Linked DNA regions of Homo sapiens: region 1 is linked to region 2. Evidence: fine-mapped expression QTL. A gene starts in region 2. The other region holds a variant in brackets. All regions are shown on one strand. Distances are between the middles of the regions.

Region 1 (2,913 bases), 79 kb after region 2:
CGATCTCTTGACCTTGTGATCCGCCCACCTCGGCCTCCCAAAGTGCTGGAATTACAGGCATGAGCCACCACGGCTGGCTTGTTTGCCCATTTTTATGGCTATTTCTTGAGTATATGCTAAACAAGGGATAGAGTATTCATACCTCCCATTTTTAGACCTTATAGGTTAATTTCCTGATGCTGCCATGTCATTTGTAAATTGTCATGGTGCCAGTGGGAGTGTAGCAGTGAGGACCACCAGAGGTCACTTTCATCGCCATCTTTGTTTTGGTGGGTTTTAGCTGGCTTCTTTATTGCAAACTGTTTTTATCAGCAAGGTCTTTATGACCTGTATCTTGTACTGATCTTCTGTATCATCCTGTGACTAAGAATGCCTTAACTTACTGGGAATGCAGCCCAGTAGGTCTCAGCCTTATTTTACCCAGCCCCCATTCAAGATGGGTGGTTCAAACGCCTCTGATAAACACACTGTGCACGCTCCCCTCCCAAGTGCGAGCAGGCCACTGTCCATGCTGGCAGCCCACCCCAAGGGAAGAATCAGGAGAAGTAACGCCAGACCCCAGAAGTATGTCAGCATACAAAACCCCAAGTCAGAAGGTCAGACCATGCACTTGATCTCTCAAGTCGCCCAGTTGGCCCTCTTCCAAGTGTACTTTACTTTCTTTCATTTATGCTTTAAACTTTCTAATAAACTTTCACTCCTGCTCTAAAATTTGCCTCAACCAAGATCACTCTGCCTTGTGCCCCTTGGTCGAACTCTTTCTCCTGAGGGGGCAAGAATTGAGGTTGCTGCAGACCCAAACAGAGTTACTCCTGCTAGCAAGTTCACTTGGGGAGAGCTTCAGAACTCTGTTCTTCCTTTCTGCATCTTGGGTAAAACCTCTGGGCCACTGCTGCAGAGATGGGGGCAGGGCAGTGGTTTGTTTCTCTTGGAGCCAGACTCTTGATGCTGGGCTGGGGTGGCAGCCTCTGGTCTTTTGGCTTGCCTCTCCTGGGATGGAACCTCTTCACTTGGCTCTTGGGTGAGGGTAATCAGGGGTTAAATACTCTTAGCCTACTGTGCCTGGGTAGAGCTTCCCACCTATGAATGGGGGCTGGGTGGAGGAAGATAGCCCCCAGTTCTCTGGCTCTTATCTGGAATTATAGCCTGTGCAAGGTGGAACTGGGGCACATGAAACAAGCTGACAAGCCTGTCCCTCTTAGGGAGAGACCACAGTCCTTTCATTCCTTGACTGGGAGCTTAAGGAGAGAGGGAGTCTTGTGTTCTTGGCTGCACCCACATGAAGTGGATCTTATT[C/G]TGAGCTTCGGAGAAGTGGAAAGTAGTTGGAAAAGGGAGAAAAGAGCGGGTCATGGCACAAATGCACAGATTCTCACTGTTCTTATTAAGCTGTGGTTGATTTTCTTAAATAAATGTTTCTTCATTTGCTGTGTGGTCTTAGGACATTTTCCAGAGGCTTCAAAGGGTTGTTTTTGTTTTTGCCGCTGGCGAGAGCGTCTGCAAAACTCCCCATGCCCTTATTCCAGAAGTCATGTCAATCTCATTTAACACAAAATTGTTCCTAAATTACACACCACCTCAAAGTAATACAGTTTCAGAGATCCCTAGGTGTAGTTACAGGTGCGAAAGGAAAATAAATCTTGGGACCCCAAATCACTAAGCTAAAGGGAAAAGTCAAGCTGGGAACGGGTTAGGGCAAACCTGCTTCCCATTCTTTTCAAAGTTATCCCTCTGCTCACCTGAGACAAATGCACATATGATTGCCTTCTCTCCCCTATTGTTTATGTAAAAATGCAGATTTATTGAGGCAGACTAAATTGTGTATTCAGTGGAAGGCTGATCAAGACTCAAAAGAATGCAACCCTCTGTCTCTTAGCTACTCCTAACCTGGAAGCCCCACTTCCACCTTACCGGAGAACCAGTGTACATTTTACACATATTGATTGATGTCTCATGTCTCCCTAAAATGCATAAAAGCAAACTGTACCCCCAACCACCTGGGGCACATGTCTCAGGACTTTCTGAGGCTGTGTCATGGACGCATTCTTAACCTTGGTAAAATAAACTATCTAAATTGACTGAAACCTGGTTCAGATATTTTGCATTCACACAGGACTATATATTATGTGAAAAAGCGTTTAATGAATAAAAATATGAGGCCGGGCGACGTGGCTCACGCATGTAATCCCAGCACTTTGGGAGGCTGAGGCGGGTGGATCACGACGTCAGGAGATCAACACCATCCTGGCTAACACGGTGAAACCCTGTCTCTACTAAAAATACAAAAAATTAGCTGGATGTGGTGGCGGGCGCCTATAGTCCCAGCTACTCAGGAGGCTGAGGCAGGAGAATGGCATGAACGGGAGGCAGAGCTTGCAGTGAGCCGAGATCGCTCCACTGCACTCCAGCCTGGGTGACAGAGCGAGACTCCGTCTCAAAAAAAAAATAGTAATAAAAAAGTTAAAATATGAGTATTCTTAAACTATAAATAATTCTTAGCATATATCTCATGCCTTTCTAATTTTGAATAAAAGAAACTTCACTCACGCCAGGTATGTCTGGGGGTCATTCTGGTGATCCTAGCCTGTTCTAAGAAAGGTCTGGAATATTTGTAGGAGTTTCATAATTTAATGTCTATATAATTATCATCTAGTACTTCAGTGAGAATATTAGAAGTGGTGAATGCAGAGATGACACATTACCATTACCGTTGACAGGTTCACCATTTACAGATGTGTCCTATGTAAGACATATGATTGAGGGTGAGTGCGCTGAAATGCAGCCCATAGTTTCTTCGTCATGGTACAAGATCATTGATACGGAGCTTGGGCACCTTATTCCATTTTTAAAACAGGTAGCTTGTGGGCTTTCAGGTAGCCTGGGCCTTTAAGGAACTGTTGTGAGCTGTGTTTTACT
Region 2 (2,913 bases):
AGAACAAGTCAACTAAAGCCATTCCATTACCTCCACAACTTCTTAAATCCAGAAAAAGATTAGATACCTACATTAGCAGTAACAAATTGGTACCAACATAAAAGGAAATAAAACTGGCTTATTAACGATGCCCGGCTCTTAAATGTAAAATGAAACGAGTTGATTTTCAAAACTGGTTTCAATTACTAAGAAACCATTCTGTTCAAAGGACGCCTCAAACTTTAACTTATCGTCGGCCCCTTTTTTGGTCTGGGTGTTTTCTCTCTTCAGAAGACATCACATCTCATTCTGATTCAGAACAGGTTTTGCAACTTCTCGGCCCTTTGGACCTGCCACTTCCAGGTGTCTCATTACCTGTTACAGACTAATTACGGACACGTAACGTCTTACACAAAACCGAAAAGCATTTAGTTTCTGAACTAAATGCTTTAAAAAAAAAAGTTTACAATGAAGATGCTGGAAAACTCGTGCATCTGAATAGGACAACTCATTCCCAAGTCCTAGAGGAAAGGAGGCGAAATCAGAGTGAAAGTGCACTGGCTTACGGCTCAAACTGCAGGGCGGGAAAACAAAGCACCTACATTACTCAAAAAAAAAAAAGTTCTAGGTTTCTGGGCGGACACTTATCCTGGGGATACACATAGACACAAGCACGCTTCAATAAAGACGAGAAAGGCCCTCCATACGCCTCCTGGCATCATTAGCTGTATCCCGCTTTACTTCGCCAATATCCAAACATTCTCAGTTTGGATTCTGGGACGCCAAATACCTTCTCTTCTGCCTCCCTATTTCTCCCACACGTCAGGTCTCTCCTGTACGTCCTCCAGGTCTAAAACACTGAGTTTCTGCCCGCCCCCTGGCCTAAGTCCCTTCCTCCTCCGCGTCTCCGAACGCTCTGTCCCCTGTCTCCGGTGTCCCCATCGGCGGCGGGACCCTCTGCCTCGGATTCGAGCCGCCGCGCAGCTCCATTCTTCTCACCTTGGTTACAGAAGAGGCTCCACAGTTTGGCGAAGATCAGCCCCATCACGAGCACCGGGGCGGGCCGCGGGGTCCCTCGGCAGCAGGTGCCGCTGCGCCGGGTCCCCCACCGCGGCGCGGGCTGCGCGGAGCCGAGGAGAACCCGCCTGAGATCGCGCAGCGAGGGCACTGCTAGGCCGAGAAGCCTCGACCCGACCACTCAGAAGGCGCCGCGACGAATCCCCACCGGACAGCCCTTTGTTTCGAGCCCACTGAGCCCAACGCCGACCCGTAGTCCCCTCGGTCTGTACCCACCTACCTACCACAGCCTCTCCACAGCCCCAAGCCCCGCCTCCACCCCGCCTCCCCTCCGGATCCCAGGACCACCCATCGCCGGAAGCTAGGCGCGTGACGACGGCGCACTTACGGCAACCCACGCCTTCGACGTGGCGTTTTCTTCGGTTTCACTTCCGGTAGGAGAGTCCCAAACGGCCAGCGGCTGGGAATTTGCGGTATCGCGGGGGGGTGGGAAATTTCCCTTGGTGCGTGCTCCTTCTGATGTCAGCCTTCAAAACGTTTGTGGGACTCCCCTTTGATTTGAGTCTCTGCTGCTAGCAGCTGCTTCCCTGACCTCTAAAACCAGGAAAGACCATAGGTTCTCTAAGTGAGCAGCCGCCGTTTGCTGCTCTTAGAAAACTCACAGAAGTGAAGAGTGTTTCTTTCCTGACTTATTCCTGTTCCCCTAGGCAGGCGTGCTAGGGGTTAGGAGTTCTGCCGTGATTCTTCTTCATTCATTTATTAATCTATTCATTCACGTATTCATTCATTGGCTTATGCATTTATGTACTCATTGATTGATTGATCGATTGCAGACGAGGTCGGGCTGTGTTGCCCAGGGGGACTCAATTTCCTGGGCTCAAGCGATCTTCCTGCCTCGACTTCCCAAAGTGGTGGGATTGCAGGCTCAGCCACCGCGCCCGGCCCCTGTCGTGATTCTTAGTTCTGAAAAGAATTGATTGGGAGACGAGCCATGGAAGGCCTGGAGCCACAGAGTTCAGTTATGTGATTAATAATAACACATAATAATAACACATAGCACCCCTCTCCATTTTGCCAAGCATTAGGTATGTTCGTGGATCCCAGATCGAAGTCCACGCATAAGCCAATTCGCTGTGTAATTGTTTTCAATTCCACTTTCCATGGTTAGGTTCTAGCATTGAAAAGAAAAGCTTCACAGCCTGGCATGAAACGAAACTGAATGTCCTTGAAACCAGTTGACGGAGGAGCAAGCTTAAAATTTTTTTAGACTCTGACTTCAGTCAGATGGTTGGATTTTAACCTTGGCAACGTGGCCTTTTAACATGCCAAACTCTTGAGTTAACCTGTACAAGGAGAATGTATGACTTACGTCCTCCCAGTGCTATGGTTTAAAGACCCTTTAAGACTTAGATGCAGGATAATATGCTCCAACGTTACAACATTAAAGGCAAGTTTCAACCTCCTATGTAGAGGAAAAAGAATGTACTGACCCTATGCAAACTTAACTTTCATGACTATCAGTTGGACCATAAATGTGAATAATTTTGTGTTTGTGTAAGTAATGGCTTAAAAGGACATTTTTAGTCCTAGCTTCATTATCACAAAACAAACTTTAGATTCCGTAACAGCTTCTTCAATTGTTAGACATGGATGTAAACCACATTCTGCTTTTTTTTTTTTTTTCTGGCTTTCGGATTTCTAAGAAACCATTTCTGAAAAGAACAAAGCATTTTTGTATGAAGATGCAGACATTTGGCTGGGCGCTGGGGCTCATGCTTGTAATCCCAGCACTTTGGGAGGCTGAGGCGGGTGGATCACGAAGTCAAGAGATGGAGACCATCCTGGCCAACATGGTGAAACCCTGTCTCTACTAAAAATACAAAAATTAGCCGGGTGTGGTGGCACGCGCCTGTAATC

Evidence for each region. PIP is the estimated chance that this variant, and not a neighbour inherited with it, causes the effect.
Region 1: its variant is the best candidate, but not a certain one, in a credible set for the expression of ARL5B in whole blood (TOPMed, PIP 0.56).

The regions. Positions count from the first base shown.
Region 1 is chr10:18,578,711-18,581,623 of GRCh38, reverse strand. All of the region lies in intron 8 of NSUN6 (NOP2/Sun RNA methyltransferase 6), which reads left to right. Among named protein-coding and RNA genes, the nearest start is that of CACNB2-AS1, 41 kb to the right of the region's middle. The variant C/G (reference allele first, on the strand shown) is at 1,297.
Region 2 is chr10:18,657,749-18,660,661 of GRCh38, reverse strand. It overlaps ARL5B (ARF like GTPase 5B), which reads right to left and starts at 1,231. Exons shown (of 6, transcript NM_178815.5): 1 at 979-1,231. The coding sequence starts at 1,024. It also overlaps a transcript of NSUN6 not described here. RefSeq lists a silencer at 1,063-1,142 and enhancers at 1,453-1,582, 2,283-2,402.